6 linked regions of the Homo sapiens genome follow. The protein of the gene in region 1 purifies or fractionates together with the protein of each later gene. This does not show direct contact. Each region holds a gene or a part of one and is shown in the gene's direction. Other genes may lie near its edges.

Evidence for each region.
Region 2: the proteins of FNDC8 (region 1) and SP3 purify together in Homo sapiens (affinity purification with mass spectrometry; one large-scale study listed by BioGRID and IntAct). This does not show direct contact.
Region 3: the proteins of FNDC8 (region 1) and EIF2AK2 purify together in Homo sapiens (affinity purification with mass spectrometry; one large-scale study listed by BioGRID and IntAct). This does not show direct contact.
Region 4: the proteins of FNDC8 (region 1) and ZNF609 purify together in Homo sapiens (affinity purification with mass spectrometry; one large-scale study listed by BioGRID and IntAct). This does not show direct contact.
Region 5: the proteins of FNDC8 (region 1) and SRR purify together in Homo sapiens (affinity purification with mass spectrometry; one large-scale study listed by BioGRID and IntAct). This does not show direct contact.
Region 6: the proteins of FNDC8 (region 1) and KLHL24 purify together in Homo sapiens (affinity purification with mass spectrometry; one large-scale study listed by BioGRID and IntAct). This does not show direct contact.

Annotation. Positions count from the first base shown.
Region 1 is NC_000017.11:35,124,615-35,127,923, forward strand, and holds part of FNDC8 (fibronectin type III domain-containing protein 8), read left to right. Parts: intron 1-2,427; coding exon 2,428-2,803; intron 2,804-3,309.
Region 2 is NC_000002.12:173,951,874-173,955,373, reverse strand, and holds part of SP3 (transcription factor Sp3), read left to right. Parts: coding exon 1-501; intron 502-3,500. UniProt on the Homo sapiens protein: Transcriptional factor that can act as an activator or repressor depending on isoform and/or post-translational modifications. Binds to GT and GC boxes promoter elements. Competes with SP1 for the GC-box promoters.
Region 3 is NC_000002.12:37,136,481-37,139,980, reverse strand, and holds part of EIF2AK2 (interferon-induced, double-stranded RNA-activated protein kinase), read left to right. Parts: intron 1-223; coding exon 224-350; intron 351-1,395; coding exon 1,396-1,472; intron 1,473-1,617; coding exon 1,618-1,711; intron 1,712-2,963; coding exon 2,964-2,998; intron 2,999-3,500.
Region 4 is NC_000015.10:64,673,578-64,677,077, forward strand, and holds part of ZNF609 (zinc finger protein 609), read left to right. Parts: intron 1-338; coding exon 339-2,679; intron 2,680-3,500. UniProt on the Homo sapiens protein: Transcription factor, which activates RAG1, and possibly RAG2, transcription. Through the regulation of RAG1/2 expression, may regulate thymocyte maturation.
Region 5 is NC_000017.11:2,317,450-2,320,949, forward strand, and holds part of SRR (serine racemase), read left to right. Parts: intron 1-420; coding exon 421-547; intron 548-1,376; coding exon 1,377-1,480; intron 1,481-3,500. UniProt on the Homo sapiens protein: Catalyzes the synthesis of D-serine from L-serine. D-serine is a key coagonist with glutamate at NMDA receptors. Has dehydratase activity towards both L-serine and D-serine.
Region 6 is NC_000003.12:183,680,623-183,682,820, forward strand, and holds part of KLHL24 (kelch-like protein 24), read left to right. Parts: 3' UTR 1-2,198. UniProt on the Homo sapiens protein: Necessary to maintain the balance between intermediate filament stability and degradation, a process that is essential for skin integrity.

The DNA of each region.
Region 1 (3,309 bases):
AAATGTTTGTCTTAGTTATAGGCGTATATATGCATGTACTAAGTTGCCATGGAAAGTGTATTTTACTTTGGGTAAAGGTAAAAAAAGATTTGAAAGCCAAACTTTTTGGCTTGGTGTTCTTCATCAGTTAAAAAAATATTGTTTTTTGTTTGGCTGGGGGCAGTGGCTCACGCCTGTAATCCCAGCACTTTGGGAGGCTGAGGCCGGCAAATCATCTGAGGTCAGGAGTTCGAGACCAGCCTAACCAACATGGTAAAACCCCATCTCTACTAAAAATACAAAAATTGGGCAGATGTGGCAGTGTGGGCCTGTAATCCCAGCTACTCGGGAGGCTGAGGCACGAGAATCGCTTAAGCCAGGGAGGCGGAGGTTGCAGTGAGTCGAAGTCACACCAGTGCACTCCAGCCTGGGCGACAGAGCGAGACTCCAGCTCAAAAAAAAAAAAAAAGAAAAAAGAGTAAAAACAGAAAAAAGAAATGTTAAGTGGTGGGGATCATGTACAAGGTTTTTCTTTGTAATAGCAAACATCTCATAACAATACAAATATCCATATAGGCCGGGCACAGTGGCTCATACCTATAATCCAAGCACTTTGGGAGGATCACTTGAGCCCAGGAGTTCGAAGTCAGCCTGGGCAACATGGCAAAACCCTGCATCTACAGAAAAACACAAAAATTAGCTAGACATGGTGATGTGCACCTGTAGTCCCAGCTACTCAGGAGGTGGAGGTGGACGGATGGCTTGAGCCTGGGAGTTTGTGCCACTGCACTCCAGCCTGGGCAGCAGAGGGAGACCCTGTCTCAAAAAACAAAAACAAAAACAAATATCCATGTAATGGAAAATCATAAAACAGTAAAAACGACTGAACCAGAGCTACATGTATCAAGATAGATGAATGTCAACACAAAGTTGAGTGAAAAAAGCATGTTGCAGATGGGTATGTGCTGAATAATATCTTTTATTTGTACAACATCTACAAACGTGAAAAATAATAGATCTTGCCTAGGGATAACATAAATATGTAAGAAACCTATAAAGACACACATTGAGTAATAAATACACAATTTAAACTTTACTGTACTCATTACTTGTCGGTCGAAGGATGGGGACTTTGGTGGGAGACAGAAGTGTCTGGGGGGCTTTACCCATAGTGATAAGATTTTATTTCTAAAGGTAGATGAGGAGTAAATGGAGGTTTAATATAATATTCTTGATATTTTTGTATAAGTCTAAAATACTTCATAATTTTAAAAAATTCAGAGTGGAAGAAATAAGTTTTTGAGCATCCACACCAACATATGTATATTTGTTTTATTTTATTTTTGAGACAGGGTCTCACTCTGTTGCCCAGGCTGGAGTGCAGTGGCAGGATCTCGGCTCACTGCAACCTCCACCTACCAGGCTCAAGCGATCCTCCCACCTCAGCCTTCCAAGTAGCTGGAATTACAGGCAACCGCCACCATGCCCAGCTAATTTTTTGTATTTTTAGTAGAGTCAAGGTTTCGCTATGTTGGCCAGGCTGGTCTTGAACTCCTGACGTCAGGTAATACACCCACCTTGGCCTCCCAAAGTGCTGAGATTACAGGTGTGAGCCACCGCGCCTGGCCCATATATGTATTTGTATTTCTGTTAATTTTACGTGCTAGATATTAATAGGTATTATTAAATGCCACTAAAATGTAAGTAAATATTAGTAATTCCATTAAAATTTAAACAATAGTAAATAAACATTAGTGAAATTGAATGTATTACTTCCATACCCCAGTAGATCTTTGTGGTTATTCCCTGGGGCATTTGCACCCCACTTTGGAGGGAGGACTTGCCATTTTAGCATGTTTTTTAAATTGTGGTTTGCAGAACACTTGCATCAGGATTTTCTAAGCTTTTTTTTTTTTTTTTTTTTTTTGAGATAGAGTTTCACTCTGTCACCCAGGCTGGAGTGCAGTGGTGTGATCTCGGCTCACTGCAACTTCTGCCCCCTGGGTTCAAGCAATTCTCCTGCCTCAGCCTACCAAGTAGCTAGGATTACAGGTGCCAACCACCGCACTCAGCCAATTTTTGTGTTTTTAGTGGAGACAGGGTTTCACCATGTTGGCCAGGCTGGTCTGTAACTCCTGACCTTGAATCTGCCTGCCTCGGCCTCCCAAAGTGCTGGGATTATAGGCGTGAGCCACTGCGCCCAGCCAGGATCTTATTAAAGATGCGGATTCTCTAGTCCCATGCTAACTGGGGACCAGGGACTAAAAGTCTGCATTTTTAGTAAGTGCCCTGGTGAGTCTAATGCAATGCTATAGAGCAATGAGGCTGTTCCAAGCTGTTTGCAAATGGCTGGGGATGCTGGTAAGTCAGGCCCAAGGCCTGCCCTCAGGTGGAACGGGCTGGGGTGGCCTCCTTCATCTGATTCACCTGTCTCCCCTTTTGCTCCAGGAAGCCGCTGCCAGTAGAGGATTCAGACTGCAGCTCTGATGAGACCAGCATCTCTGCCTTCTCATCCACCTTGCTGAACCCCATCAAATTAGCTGTGACCCAGCCCAACAGCAGCTTCTTTGCAGGGATGCTGGAGGGGGAGCTGAACAAACTCAGCTTCTCCCCAATGGCCAAGAATGCAGAAAATGAGGACCTGGCGCTCGGCCCCTGCCCATGCCCATCGAAGTCCCAGATGGCCACAAGGGGCCTGCTGGACCTTGACAACCCTGAGCTGGAGACAGAAACCTCCTCAACGCACTCAGAATCTTCTGTGGTTGTGGACCTGCCGGACACCCCCTTCATCTTTGAGCACACCGTCAACAATTCCACAGCTGTGGTGCGTTTCCCTTGCTCATGCGTTCAGCAGAGGCTTATTGTGCCAGGCACTGAGCTGAGCTCCATGGGTAGTGAGAAGGTGCCTGCCACCTGCATGTCGACCTCAAGTTCACGGTTTAGGAAGGGAGAGGATGTGTCTGTAAAAACTCCAGTGCAAGACAGAAAGGGTTCAGTGCTGTAGGAAAAGTTCAGAGCAAGTGCCACCAGGAATTCAGAGGGAAAGATATTTCCAGATGCGGGAATAAGCTTGGTGGCTTTTGGTAACATCTGAGCTGGGATGTAGAGGTAGCATGTAAACATCTAGAGGTGGAGGAGGGAGGCATTCCCTGGAGGGGCGGACCCTAGCAAAAGCTCACAGGAAAGTGAGGGAGGAAATCTCAATTTGAACAAGATGGTAGGTGATCTGTAGGAACATGAAAGCGTGAGAAGCCCTGGATGAGGACCTGGGATCGAGTGAGGCTACTCAGAATTGCTGGGCCTCCTCCCTAGAGGGTCTAGGGTGAAGCC
Region 2 (3,500 bases), on another chromosome or scaffold:
AGACACAGGCACAGAATATTCAGGTTTCTACAGCACAGCCTGTTGTACAGCATCTACAACTTCAAGAGTCTCAGCAGCCAACCAGTCAAGCCCAAATTGTGCAAGGTATTACACCACAGACAATCCATGGTGTGCAAGCCAGTGGTCAAAATATATCACAACAGGCTTTGCAAAATCTTCAGTTGCAGCTGAATCCTGGAACCTTTTTAATTCAGGCACAGACAGTGACCCCTTCTGGACAGGTAACTTGGCAAACGTTTCAAGTACAAGGGGTCCAGAACTTGCAGAATTTGCAAATACAGAATACTGCTGCCCAACAAATAACTTTGACGCCTGTTCAAACCCTCACACTTGGTCAAGTTGCGGCAGGTGGAGCCTTCACTTCAACTCCAGTTAGTCTAAGCACTGGTCAGTTGCCAAATCTACAAACAGTTACAGTGAACTCTATAGATTCTGCTGGTATACAGCTACATCCAGGAGAGAATGCTGACAGTCCTGCAGGTGAGTCTTAAGTTATGTCATGCCATAAATAAGTTCAGTGATAATACATAGAGGGAAATTTTTTGCTTTAGGTATTTATCAGCATCAGACTCACATTAGAATTAATGATCAATGTTTGTATGAAAATATGTTTGTATGAAAGTAGACATCAAAGTATCTTCCAAATTATTCTTTGAAAGTTTGTAGTTTTTGAAGTTAGGGATTCATGTTTCTATTATGCCAATTAACATTTATAGTTTTTTCTTAATTTTATATTTGTTTTGACATCTGATTGATATTGTCAGGCATTATAAAATTTTTATTTGGCAGGTAGGGTGTCTTGGTTGGCCTTAGTGTGATGTGAATTAAAATTTTTATGCATTATATTTGGTTGAGGAGTCAGGTTGGTATAGTGAAAACATGGTACAGGGAGTAAATATGCCTCAGCCACTTGCTAGGTGTGTGATTTTGACCAAGTTATTTTTCTTTCGCAAACTCAGTTTCCTTGTTGTGTAAAATGGAGGTGTTGGACTAGGTAACTGTCTAGGTGACCTTCCAGACCAAAAATTCTTTGATTCTGTGATAGTGGGCATTAAACTTAGCTGTGCTAGAAATAGTTGTCAATAGTATGGGTAGACATTTCTGAAGTCTGCTCTTTGAATGTTGTGTAAGAATTAAATAATAAAGTTTAAAAAGAGATAGTGTCATTTTTACCCTATTAATGTTGTCTGTCTAGATAACATTTGATTGAATGTTTTGTTGTGCAGTAAATCCTGAACTTTATTACTTTAATTCTGTTTTGTATTTGGATTTCTGTGGAGATTGTACTACTAACATTCTTTCACCAGGTCAGTGATTCTAAACTCTTAAATTGGGACACTTTAACTGAACTGATTGACATAACTCCCATCACCATTTAAAGATTACCTTTTTTCTTTTGATAAATTTGTGATACATGCTTAGAAAATTGAAATGGTCTTAGAACCTCAGATCCGTATTTGGAAATCCTTTAATTGCATTTAAGCCTTCTGAAGCTGTGATTATTTTTTTTTAGGGGTTGGGATTAGGATTTCTGAAACTGGTTTAGAGCAGTAGTTGTTTTTTTTTTTGTTTTGTTTTGTTTTTTGAGATGGAGTCTCGCTCTGTCACACAGGCTGGAGTGCAGTGGTGTGATCTTGGTTCACTGCAACCTCTGCCTTCTGGGTTCAAGCAATTCTCGTGCCTCAGCCTCTCGAGTAACTGGGATTAGCTCCTGAATAACTGGGATTACAGGTGCACACCACCACATCCGGCTAATTTTTGTATTTTTAGTAAAGATGAGGTTTAGTAAAGATGTTGGCCAGGCTGGTCACAAACTCCTGACCTCAAGTGATCTGCCTGTCTTGGCCTCCCAAAGTGCTGGGATTACAGGTGTGGGCCTCCCAAAGTTCTGGGATTACAGGTGTGGGTCTCCCAAAGTGCTGGGATTACAGGCGTGAGCCACCGCTCTGCTCCTGGCCTAGAACAGTAGTTCTTAAAATGTGATCTGTGGACCATTGGATATCCCTGAGACCCTCTCAGAGGTCCTTCACATCAAGCTGCACTAAGAAATTGTTTGCCTTGTTCTCTGTGTTGACACTTTCAGTGGTGGTGGATAAAACTGCTTGTGTCTTAGCATAAATCAAGGCAGTGACAGCAAACTGTAATAGTTGTTGCTGTATTCTTCATGACCATGCACTTGCAGTTAAAGAAAAATCCCAGTTTCACTCAAGAATGACCTCGATGAACCAGTAAGAAAAGATATTTACTAAATCTTGACCCTTGAGGGCTGCATGTCTTTTAAAAAATAATAGCTTTATTGGGATATAACTCACATACCGTAAAACTCACTCTTTATACAATTCACTGGTTGTAACTATGGTCATAGAGTTGTACAACCATCATCACTATCTAATTTCAGAGCATTTTTATTACCTCAAAAGGAAACCCATACCCTTTAGCAGTCACTCATCATTCACTTCCCCTCAGACCCTGACAACCACTATGCTACTTTCTGTCCCTTCAGATTTGCCAGTTATTTCGTATCAGTGTAATTGTACAATATGTGGCCTTTGGTGTTTGGTTTCTTTCATTTAGCATGATGTTTTCAAGGTTCATCTGTGTCATGGTATGTGTCATTACCTCATTTCTTTATATATGGCTGAATACTGTTCCACTGTATGGATATACCACATTTTATTTATCTACTGGTGGACATTTAGGTTGTTTACACTTTTTGGCTATTATGAATATTGCTGCTGTGAACATTTGTGTAGGTAGTATTTTGTGTGGAAATGTTTTCTTTTGGGTATGTACCTGGGACTGGATTGCTGGGTTATATGGCAATTGGGTTTAACCGGTTTTCCAAAGAGACCATACCGTTTTACATTCTCATCAGCAATGTGTTGAGAGTCCCAATTTCTCTCTAGCGCCACCAACCTTATTATTGCCCATCTTTCTGATTACAGCCATCCTAGTGGGTGTGAAGTGGTATCTTTTTATGGTTTTGGTTTGTAGTTCCTACTGCATATCTTTGTAGTAGTATTTATGATGAAATGGGAAGTATGCCTTAATAAAGCATTTTTGCTGCATATCAAAATAAGAATTGTCTTTAAAAAACCACTTTTTTCCCTCAGTTATGCAGTTCTGTGAGTTGCAAGCTGAACTAGATGCTATTTTCATCAAATACTGTTTTTACTTGAAAGAATGATAAACTGTGGTCTTGAGATTAATGTACTTAAGTGACAGATATTTCCTCAAAAAAAAAAAAAAAATGAAGTGAGCCTGTCATGTGAAGGAAAAAAACTGGAAAGCATTTGCTGCTGCAGATGACAAAATTTGTGCTTTCCAGTGAAAATTAGAATTTTAGAAAACTCAAATCTATTATGAGCTTGATACCTTCTTAATATTTTTCTGATGAGATGGATAGTGATACTAACAAAGCTTTTTTGATACTGTATTTTAATGTAATGTGCTAACACTTGGAAGATCTGTATGATAGT
Region 3 (3,500 bases), on another chromosome or scaffold:
GCCTGGAAAATGCAAGCTCAGATGTCAGCTGATCCTGGGTATTCAGAGAAATTGGTCAGGCATGTTACTGAGGGTTTAAATTATGCAAGATATGAACTATAAATCTATCTAATAAATTGGTGTTATCTTAAGATCTCTGTTAATATGTTATTTTTTTTGAATCCTAAGTTGGATTTGCTATATTTTTCATGTTTGGATAAGTACCTTCTATGATTTCTCCTAGATTTCATTATAAATGCAAAATGGGACAGAAAGAATATAGTATTGGTACAGGTTCTACTAAACAGGAAGCAAAACAATTGGCCGCTAAACTTGCATATCTTCAGATATTATCAGAAGAAACCTCAGTGGTACGTATTGCCTTTGGATTAAATTTTTATGTTTTAAAATTCCCTCTGAAGTTGACTTGAGGTTAGACTGTGTTAACATTATGCCAAGACAGCCAGTGATTTAGCAAAATGATTCCTCCATTCTGTGTCGTACCGATGAGCCATGCACCATGGGGCCATGAGGCCTCAGAGGGATAAAATTTCTGGTGGCAACTCAGGGTAGTTTTTAAACTCCAGGCTGGGCTGGGTGTGGTGGCTCACACCTGTAATCCCAGCACTTTGGGAGGCCAAGGCAGGTGGATCTCCTGAGTTCAGGAGTTTTTTTTTTTTTTTTTTTGAGATGGAATCTCGCTCTGTTGCCCAGGCTAGAGTGCAGTGGCACGATCTCGGCTCACTGCAACCTCCGCCTCCCATGTTCAAGCAATTCTCCTGCCTCAGCCTACTGAGTAGCTGGGACTACAAGCGCCTGCTACCGTGCCCGGCTAATTTTTTATTTTTAGTAGAGATGGGGTTTCACTATGTTGGCCAGGCTGGTCTTGAACTCCTGACCTCATGATCCACCCACCTCAGCCTCCTAAAGTGCTGGGGTTTACAGGCTTGAGCCACTGCACCTGGCCGAACTCAGGAGTTTCAGACCACCTGGCCGGGGCAACACAGCAAAACCATGTCGCTACAAAAAAAAAAAAAAATTAGACGGGTGTGGTGGCATGTACCTGTAGTCCTAGCTACTCAGGAGGCTGAGGCGGGAGGATTGCCTGAGCCTGGGAGATGGAGGTTGCAGTGAGCCAAGATTGTGCCACTGCACTTCAACCTAGACAACAGAGCCAGATCCTGTCTGAAAAGAAAGAAACAAACAAAATATCTGCCCTGTGATCCAGAAAAGTAAAATAAAAAATAAAATAAAATCCAGACCAAACATCCAAAAAATGTTATTAATCTTGTAATTGTTTATGGTTGTGGATTTGGTAAATGTGTTGAAATAAATGTGATAGTACATAGAAACTGAGCCTCTGTAGAGAAATAATTAGTTGTATTTAAGCCTACTAAGGGATACTTTTTCTTTCAGAAATCTGACTACCTGTCCTCTGGTTCTTTTGCTACTACGTGTGAGTCCCAAAGCAACTCTTTAGTGACCAGCACACTGTAAGTGTAGACAAACAATTGAGATACTTAACATATTCATATTTCTGTCTGAAAGACAGATTTTTATGTTTAAGGAGAATTTAGGGAAAGAAATAAGTGATAAAAACAGAATTAATAAACTAATAGTTACACCCTTTTCTTCTAGCGCTTCTGAATCATCATCTGAAGGTGACTTCTCAGCAGATACATCAGAGATAAATTCTAACAGTGACAGTTTAAACAGTTCTTCGTTGCTTATGGTATCGTATTAGTCTCGAAGCTTCCTACTTAATCTTATTTTTCTGTGCGTTTCCTCATTTAAAAATAACTTCCAGTATTCCACCATAATTTTTATATTTTTTATCTTATGCACTCTTACTAAATGATAATACCTCAGTAGACTTTTTTTTTTTTTTTTTTTGAGATGGAGTCTCCCTCTGTTGCCCAGGCTGGAGTGCAGTGGTGAGATCTTGGCTAATTACCACCTCCACCTCCTGGTTCAAGCGATTCTCCTGCCTCAGCCTCCTGAGTAGCTGGGATTACATGCGCGTGTACCACACCTGGCTAATTTTTGTACTTTTAGTAGAGACGGGGTTTCACCATGTTGTTCAGGCTGGTCTCGAACTCCTGACCTCGTGTTCTGCCCACCTCGGCCTCCCCAAGTGCTGGGATTACAGGCATGAGCCACCGCGCCCGGCTCGGCAGCTTTTTGACTTTTTTTAAAATTAAGTTCCATTCCTTACCCTTCCACACGTCACTTCTGTCTTTCCTCACTCATCCTTATATTTTAGTATATTCCTATGATTTTGCTTTTCTCTCCTACCAATGGGATAATATTTAAAGATTCACTAATATAGTTCGTTTCTGTTTTTAAAAATTAGAATTAAACTTAAAAGTAAACTTGAAATCAGATAATTTTTTAGGCTGGTGCAGTGGCACATGCCTGTAGCCTGCAGCACTTGAGAGGCCAAGGTAGGAGGATCGCTTTAGCCCAGGAGTTTGAGACCAGCCTAGGCAACATAGTGAGACCCTCATCGCAAAAACAAACAAACAAACAAAAACCAGACAATTTTTTTGTGCACATAAGCAGGCAATGTTGAACTTAGAGCAAAATCCATGCTTTTGGTGATTAGTGTTACAAGAGTATTCTGTTATAAAGAACTACAAATCAATAAGAAAATGGCAAGCAGCTCAGTAGAAAAGTGTACAAAATGTATAAACAGATATTCAGAGAAGAGATACCCAAATGGGCAACAAATATTAAAAGCTGCTTTACTAGGAATCAGGAAAATTTAAATCAAAACAATTAGATACTATTTTAAACTCATTAGATTGGCAAAAAGTTAAGTCTTACAATACTAAGTGTTGATACAGGGCTTGATGAGAGTACAGACATTGATGGACTAAGAAATTGGTCAGAGAGCCATCTAGATATACAGGAGGAAGGAAAACGGGAAAGGAAGATGACTGATTTAGTCATCTGAAACTATTTCTCATTTTCTTTTGTTATAGAATGGTCTCAGAAATAATCAAAGGAAGGCAAAAAGGTGAGTATCATTATGCATTGAACATATTTTGATCTGAAGTTTTATTTCAGACTTATTTATTGTTCTTAATACTTGTAGAGTATTGTACACCCTTATTTGAGCAGAGTTTCAGAAGCAGAAAGCTTGAAATCTATAAACAAATAATTTTAGATGTGTCGAGAAATCTTTGACTATGTGCACATGCTACACTGTAAACATAAAGCACTTTGGGGGTATCGCTAGAGTAATTAGGTTAAGGGCATTATTTTGTACAAGACTGGCAAGGAATTGGGCTGTTTTCACTGTAGAAGTGTTTTCAAGAGAAGTGTATTATTTTGCAGACAAGTAAGGTTAAAATAGCATAAAAACTTGGATTAAAAAAAGGTCAAATGCTATGTCAATTAACTGAAGAGAAAGGCAAAGATGTAAATATAGTCAGAAATGACAGTAAGATGGCAGTAGGAGCCATTATGAGCCACCAGTATATTCTGAGCAGTAGATAGATGTATTGAAGAAACATGGT
Region 4 (3,500 bases), on another chromosome or scaffold:
GACAAGTCATTTAGCATGCCTGGCCTCAATTTCCTGTATGATCTCTAACATCTTTTCTGAAACCATGACTATGGCTGTATATAGGAAATGTTGACTTGACTATCTTACGGAACAGATTCTGCATGGTTTTAGAGGTAAATGTTTGGGAATAATTTGCAGCTAACGTGTATCCCAGGAGTTCACCATTTAGTGCAATTCACAATCAGAATTTCTTTTAACAAATCATATTCATTGAAAATGATAGTCACCATCTGGACAGTTCTGGAGGCTACAGCTAAACTGCTTTGAAGATGTTTTCTCTTCTTAATAATATTCTGTTGTGTTTATCCTTTGCCAAGGTTCTGTGACTCCCCGACCAGTGACCTGGAAATGCGCAATGGCCGGGGTAGAGGCAAACGCATGCGTCCCAACAGTAATACACCTGTCAATGAGACAGCCACAGCCTCTGACAGCAAAGGGACCAGTAACAGCAGCAAAACCCGGGCAGGAGCCAATAGCAAAGGCCGTCGGGGCAGCCAGAATTCTTCAGAGCACCGCCCACCTGCCAGCAGCACTTCTGAGGATGTCAAGGCCAGCCCTTCCTCAGCTAATAAGCGGAAAAACAAACCCCTTTCAGACATGGAGCTGAATTCTAGCTCAGAGGACTCCAAAGGGAGCAAGCGTGTCCGTACTAATTCCATGGGCTCAGCCACTGGCCCCCTTCCTGGGACAAAGGTAGAACCCACTGTTCTGGACAGAAACTGCCCCTCCCCCGTCCTAATTGACTGTCCCCACCCAAACTGCAACAAGAAGTACAAGCACATCAATGGACTTAAGTACCACCAAGCTCATGCCCATACAGATGATGACAGCAAGCCGGAAGCGGATGGGGACAGTGAGTACGGAGAGGAACCTATTCTCCATGCAGATCTTGGGAGCTGCAACGGTGCATCTGTCTCACAAAAAGGTTCCTTGTCCCCTGCCCGCTCAGCTACCCCCAAAGTTCGACTTGTAGAGCCCCATAGCCCTTCTCCTTCAAGCAAATTCAGCACAAAAGGCCTCTGTAAGAAAAAGTTGAGTGGGGAAGGGGACACAGACCTTGGGGCCTTATCCAATGATGGCTCTGATGATGGACCCTCAGTGATGGATGAAACAAGCAATGATGCCTTTGATTCTTTAGAAAGGAAGTGTATGGAAAAAGAAAAATGTAAAAAACCCTCTAGTTTAAAACCTGAAAAGATTCCTTCCAAGAGCCTAAAGTCAGCCCGTCCCATTGCCCCTGCCATCCCCCCACAGCAAATCTACACCTTCCAGACAGCCACCTTCACAGCAGCGAGCCCAGGCTCTTCCTCAGGCTTGACCGCCACAGTGGCACAAGCCATGCCCAACAGTCCCCAACTCAAGCCCATTCAGCCCAAGCCCACTGTTATGGGAGAACCTTTCACAGTCAACCCTGCCTTGACTCCAGCCAAGGACAAGAAAAAGAAAGACAAAAAAAAGAAGGAATCTTCAAAGGAACTTGAAAGTCCTCTGACCCCTGGGAAGGTGTGTCGAGCAGAGGAAGGCAAAAGCCCATTCAGGGAATCTTCAGGAGATGGGATGAAAATGGAGGGGCTCCTAAATGGCTCATCAGACCCCCACCAAAGCCGACTGGCTAGCATCAAGGCTGAAGCCGACAAGATCTACAGTTTCACGGACAATGCCCCCAGCCCTTCCATTGGAGGCAGTAGCCGCCTTGAAAACACTACCCCTACTCAGCCCCTGACTCCCTTACATGTGGTGACCCAGAATGGAGCTGAAGCCAGCTCAGTCAAAACCAACAGCCCTGCATACTCTGACATCTCTGATGCTGGGGAGGATGGGGAGGGCAAGGTAGACAGTGTCAAATCAAAGGACGCCGAACAGTTGGTTAAAGAAGGGGCTAAGAAAACTCTTTTTCCCCCTCAGCCTCAGAGCAAAGACTCACCATATTACCAAGGCTTTGAGAGTTACTATTCTCCAAGTTATGCACAGTCCAGCCCTGGGGCTCTGAACCCCAGCAGCCAGGCAGGAGTGGAGAGCCAGGCCCTGAAGACAAAAAGGGATGAGGAACCTGAGAGCATAGAAGGGAAAGTGAAGAACGATATCTGTGAAGAAAAGAAGCCCGAGCTGAGCAGTTCCAGTCAGCAGCCCTCGGTCATCCAGCAGCGTCCCAATATGTACATGCAGTCCCTGTACTACAACCAGTATGCCTATGTACCCCCCTATGGCTACAGCGACCAGAGTTACCACACCCACCTTCTGAGCACTAACACGGCTTACCGGCAGCAGTACGAAGAACAGCAGAAACGCCAGAGCTTAGAGCAGCAGCAGCGGGGAGTGGACAAGAAGGCAGAGATGGGCCTGAAGGAGCGGGAGGCAGCACTCAAGGAAGAGTGGAAGCAAAAGCCGTCAATTCCACCAACTCTCACCAAGGCCCCCAGCCTGACAGACCTGGTGAAATCAGGACCTGGCAAGGCCAAGGAGCCAGGGGCTGACCCAGCCAAATCAGTCATCATTCCCAAGTTAGATGACTCTTCAAAACTCCCGGGCCAGGCCCCTGAAGGCCTTAAAGTGAAGCTGAGTGATGCCAGCCACCTAAGCAAGGAGGCCTCTGAGGCCAAGACAGGTGCTGAGTGTGGTCGACAGGCAGAGATGGATCCAATACTCTGGTACCGACAGGTAACTGTTGCCCTGGGAGGAAGTGGAAATACCGTATGGTAATCGTCTATCTTCCTCACAAATAAGGGCTGTCCTTATACAGGGGTTCAACGGAATTGAGATTAGCAGGAGAGATGTATAATTTTAAGGATTCTTTACCTTTGTAAACTATTTTAATGTTTTTTATTTTATTTTAGTATTATTATTTTTTTTGAGATGGAGTCTCACTCTGTTGCCCAGGCTAGAGTGCAGTGGTGCAATCTTGGCTCACTACAACCTCCGCCTCCCAGGTTCAAGCAATTCTCCTGCCTCAGCCTCCCGAGTAGCTGAGATTACAGGCACACGCCACCATGCCCAGCTAATTTTTTTTGTATTTTTAGTAGAGATGGGGCTTCACCATCTTGGTCAGGCTGGTCTGGAACTCCTGACCTCAAGTAATCCACCTGCCTCAGCCTCCCAGAGTGCTGGGATTACAGGCATGAGCCACTGCACCCAGCCAATTTTTATTTTATTTTATTTATTTATTTATTTATTTTGAGATGGAGTCTGGCACTGTCACCCAGGCTGGAATGCACTGGCGCAATCTCAGCTCACTGCAACCTCTGCCTCCCAGGTTCACACGATTCTCCTGCCTCAGCCTCCCGAGTAGCTGGGATTACAGGTGCACGCCACCACACCTGGCTAATTTTTTGTATTTTTAGTAGAGACGGGGTTTCACCATGTTAGCCAGGATGGTCTTGATCTCCTGACCTTGTGATCCACCCACCTCGGCCTCCCAAAGTACCTGGATTAAGGCGTGAGCCACTGCGCCCAGTCGTAATTTTTTTTATTTTTATGTTTTT
Region 5 (3,500 bases), about 33 Mb from region 1:
TGCAGTGAGCCGAGATCGCGCCACTGCACTGCAGCCCGGGCTACAACAGAGCGAGACTAGGTCTAAAAAAATAAAAAAAAAAAATTTAGCCGGGCATGGTGGCAGGTGCCTATAATCCCAGCTACTTGGGAGGCTGAGGCAGGAAAATCACTTGAACCCGGCCCTGGGGGTAGACGCAGTGTGGGGAGGCGGACGTTGCAGTAAGCCGAGATCGTGGCACTGCACTCCAGCCGGGATAACGGAGACTCCATCTCAAAAAAATAAAAAATAAAGATGCACATGAGATATTTAAGAGGTAAATCGATAAGATTTGGTGACAGATTGGATGTGCATGTTAAGGATAGAAAATCTAGAAAAGCTCCTTGCTTTCCAAAACAATGTTTTAATCAAATATGTGAATTCACCATCCCTCTTTTTCAGATTCGTGGTGCTCTCAATGCCGTCAGAAGCTTGGTTCCTGATGCTTTAGAAAGGAAGCCGAAAGCTGTTGTTACTCACAGCAGTGGAAACCATGGCCAGGCTCTCACCTATGCTGCCAAATTGGAAGGTACTTGATTTCTCAAGGTACTGGGTAGATCTTCAGAAAGGAGTGGAAAAGTGCCCTTAATTTCAGTGAGAGTGATGATAGCTGTGGGAAGTAACTTTCCAAAGAAATCTCTATCTGATTGCAAGCAATATGAACATAAGTTTTTTTTTTGTTTGTTTTGTTTTTTTGAAGACAGAATCTTGCTGTCACCCAGGCTGGAGAGCGGTGACGCGATCTCGGCTCACTGTAACCTCCACCTGCCGGGTTCAAGCGATTCTCCTGCCTCAGCCTCCTGAGTAGCTGGGACTACAGGTGCGCACCACCACGCCTGGCTAATTTTTTCTATTTTACAAATACAAAATACTAATTTCACCATGTTGCCCAGGCTGGTCTCGAACTCCTGGGCTCAAGCAATCCACCCGCCTTGGCCTCCCAAAGTCCTAGGATTACAGGCGTGAGCCACCACACCTGGCTGAACATGTTTCTTTCTTTTTTTTTTTTTTTTTTGAGACGGAGTCTTGCACTGTCGCCCAGGCTGGAATGCAGTGGCAGGATCTCGGCTCACTGCAAGCTCCACCTCCCGGGTTCACACCATTGTCCTGCCTCAGCCTGGGACTACAGGAGCCTGCCACCATGCCTGGCTATTTTTTTTTTTTTTTTTTTTTTTTGTATTTTTAGTAAAGACAGGGTTTCACCGTGTTAGCCAGGATGGTCTCAATTTCCTGACCTTGTGATCCGCCTGCCTCAGCCTCCCAAAGTGCTGGGATTACAGGTGTGACCCACCGTGCCTGGCCACATAAGTTTCTATTCTAAATTCTCCTGACTTTTTCCTCTCGTTTTCCTCTCCCAGGAATTCCTGCTTATATTGTGGTGCCCCAGACAGCTCCAGACTGTAAAAAACTTGCAATACAAGCCTACGGAGCGTCAATTGTATACTGTGAACCTAGTGATGAGGTAAGGAGAGCAGTGCTTGGTACCACCTTAACAGCTTTCATTTGACCAATGGCTCTTTCTACCTTACTGGCTGCTCCTTCTCAGCCTCCTTTGTGGTTTCCCCTTTATTTCTGTTAGCATGCTCAACCTTTTCTCTATCTACACTCACAAGATCTCATTAGTCTCATTTCTTAAATTATTACCTATGGTCTAACAACACCAACTCCAACTTCTCTCCCTTTAACAGCCAACTTTTATATAACAGCTACCTAACTTTCCCACTTGATGTCTTAAAAGGCATCTCAAACTACAGCTAAAACCAAACTCCTGATCTTACTTCCCTATATTGCTTCCCTTCCAGTCTTCCTCATCTTAGTAAATGGCAATTTTTATTCTTCTAGTTACTCAAAAAAAAGTTGGAGTCATCTTTTTTTGAAAATTTTTTGTTGTTGTTGTTAAAGATGGACTCTTTCTATGTTGTGGGATCCTTCTGCCTCAGCCTGTTGAGTAGCTAGGACTACAGGTGCATGCCACCACACCTAATTCCTTTATTTTTTGTAGACAGGGTCTCACTGTTGCCCAGGCTGGTCTCAAACTCCTGGATTCAAGCAGTCCTCCCACCTTGGCCTCCCAAAATGCTGGGATCACAGGCATGACCCACTGCACACAGCCAGGAATCCTCTCTGATAACCCTCTCATACCCCACATCCAAATCTCAGTCTGCTTTCAACATATTTCCATAACCCAACTGCTTCTGTGTCTACCGTTAGCACTCTGATTCAAACCAACATCAATTCTCACCTATATTCAATTCAGTAGCCAAACTGGTCTCTCTGCATCCACCCTTGCCACACTACAGGCTTTTTTGAGCAACCAGAGGTCTCCATTTAATAAAGTCAGAACTTGTCTCTTCTTTTTTTTTTTTTTTGAGGCGGAGTCTTGCTCTGTCGCCCAAGCTGGAGTGCAGTGGTGCCATCTTGGCTCACTGCAAGCCCCGCCTCCTGGGTTCCAGCGATTCTCTTGCCTCAGCCTCCCGAGTAGCTGGGACTACAGGCGCCTGCCACCATGCCCAGCTAATTTTTTCTATTTTTAGTAGAGACGGGGTTTCACTGTGTTAGCCAGGATGGTCTCGATCTCCTGACCTCGTGATCCACCCACCTCGGCCTCCCAAAGTGCTGGGATTACAGGCGTGAGCCACCACGCCTGGCCAGAACTTGTCTCTTTTCAAGTCTAAATCCTCTGTTGGTTTCCCATCTCATACACGGTGGAAACGAGAGTTCTTGCAATCATCTAATCCCTGGATAAACTCAAACATTCCTATCTTTCTGACCTCATCTCTCATCTTTTTTTTTTTTTTTTTTTTTTTTTAGACAGAATCTCCCCGTCTCCCAGGCTGGAGTGCAGCGGCACAATCTCGGCTCACTGCAACCTCCGCCTCCTGGGTTCAAGCGATTCTTCTGCCTCAGCCTCCCGAGTAGCTGGGACTACAGGCGCGTGCCACCATGCCCAGCTAATTTTTGATTCTTTAGTACAGACAGGGTTTCACCATATTGGCCAGGCTGGTCTCGAACTCCTGACCTCGTGATCTGCCCGCCTTGGCCTCCCAAAGTGCTGGGATTACAAGTGTGAGCCACCGTGCCTGGTCCCTCATCTTCTTTTTATTTATTTTGAGACAGGGTCTCACTCTGTCCAACCCAGGCTGGAGTGCGGTAGTTTCTTCTCAGCTCCCTGCAGCCTCCGCTTCCTGGGTTCAAGAGATTCTCATGCCTCAGCCACCAGAGTAGCTGGGATTACAGGCGCGTGCCACCACATCTGGCTAATTTTTGTATTTTTAGTAGAGACGGGGTTTTGCCGTGTTGGCAAGGCTGGTCTTGAACTCCTGACCTGAAGTGATCTGCCCACCTTGGCCTCCCAGAGTGCTGGGATTATAGGTGTCAGCCACTGCACCCAGCCTTGACCTCATCTTCTATTATTTCTCTTGCCCACTCTGTGCCAGCCATACTAACCTTTTTAGCTGTTCCTCAGAAAGGCCAAGCACTCC
Region 6 (2,198 bases), on another chromosome or scaffold:
TGTCTAGATTTCTCAACTCCACTTTATAAAGCTTATCAGTTTTCAGAGAGGAATGTGAATTTTTTTTCTAATGCAAATAAATGGATATGGCAGGAACTACAGCATAAGTGATTATTGTGATTCTGGGTGGACGGATATAATTTACAACATTTAGGGATGTTCTAGGTAGCCTGCTGTAGTTTGACTTCCAGTCACTGTTGTCTTTCACATTATAATTTGTATATTTCTTGTGATAGAAGGGATGATGCAAATATGTAATTAAAGTGTCACCAGATTTCTGTTAAAACCAAGGTTGAAATAAAAAGCCTAACATTGGTAAGCTACATTGTTTTCTCATTTTAGAATGATTCAGAGATTTCAGATAGACATTTTTTAAACTTTAATGCTTAGCTAGAATCTACATTCTGAGGAAAACTCTAAAAAACTTAAAAATTTTTAGGGAATTTTTATTTTTCAAATCATAATTTTAAAATGATAGATACCATTTTGTGATAACAACAATTCAGAAAACAATTTTCTATCCTCTTAGTTGAAAGAATGTAGGTACAGTTTGGATACTTGTACTTTAATTTTAGAGTAAACATCTGCATTATACTCTTATAGATAATAGAATTATTTAGTTAAGAAATTCTTTACAGTAAATGAGATAATGTGTGAAAAAGTATTTTGTAAATGCTGAGGATTCTACAAATGATAGTTGTTATTTTCATGTGTATTTGTAAGATCATGTCCATTTCATGAATATAGGACTTCACATAAAAAAAGACTTTCTCAAGACAACTTTATATTCTAGTATTTTTCTGTTGTAAAAAGTATTAACTATTTACTTTTATTTTGTTATACATTTATTTTAATATCCATGTGTTTATTATAGTAAATTTGAAATGAAATCCTGAAAAACAGAATTTTTTTAAACACAGACCTCACACCAATATTAATTTTTTCTCTACATAATTTAAAACTACATAAATTAAGTACTTAAAATTTATATTGAAGGCCACCAAGAACTTAGGTTGAATCTTAGAAAATTTAAATAACTATTTTTAAAGTTACCCAACTTAATATTTTAATTTTTTAATATTTATCTTCCTTTACTAATTCTTGATAAATAATAGCATTAGACTTGATAAAATAAAAAAGAATTTTAGAGTAGAATTAATATATCAAAAGGGGTATATCAACCAAATTGGTGTCAGATTGTATTCATTCTCTCATCACATAAAGATTTTTCTTTTGATAGGTGATGCTCATATGAACCTTTGGTTTAGAATCTATATATGTACATGTGTATGTATGTAGATAGTATGGTTGTATACACACATATATACCAAACACCATGAATTTTAGCAGTCTGTGATGATCAGCAAAAAAGCACATAAAGTAAAAATTAGTTGACCATGCTAAATTCAATTCTGGAATTTTTTTTTATTTGGGCATTTCTAGAACTTTTTACATTTGAAAGTACATGATGAGTATTAGTAACGATGACTTATGTATAATCAGAATCTTTATGACAATTTAGTTTTACAAGGTCAGAAGAGATGAGTTTGCTAAACCCAGCTGTGATACCTCAGTTGGAAAGGGAATTCAAAGGTATGCTTTGTAGAACAGAAAAGTATAGTTTTTTTTTCATGAACTTTAATCATTTTCTGTTTTTCCTCTATGTGAGTCAGCTACAAAAGTGGTCTAATTTTTACAACAGTAGAACTTCCTCCTTTTCTACTGTAATCTTCCCACTGACTTTACTGCACAGGTATGAAATACTAGTGTATTGGATCTTCAGTAACCTTTTTATTTCCTAGATGATTGAAATATAGGTATTTACTCCATTTAAACCAGGTGATAAGATGATGTAAATACTCAGGGAGGGTATTAACTTGTTACTTTTGCTCGTTTGGGGTGTAAAGTGCCATGACTGAATAATCTTCAATTCATGATTCTAGAGTAAGTTTAATTTGGAAAAAGGGGCTTCACACATGGTGGTGGTTGAACATTGATTCTTTTATACTTAAAAAGATGAAAATGTTTTGTGGACTGATACATTTTATCTTACTGAATATGAATTGTTTATGTATCTCTACTGTCAAATAGCCTTTTTGAAACTCAGGAAAGACAAAGGTTCAATTACACCACTTTTGTCAATAAGCAAACCAGGTATTTTTTTTTTCTCCTGTTGTCTGGATATGGCAATAGATTTT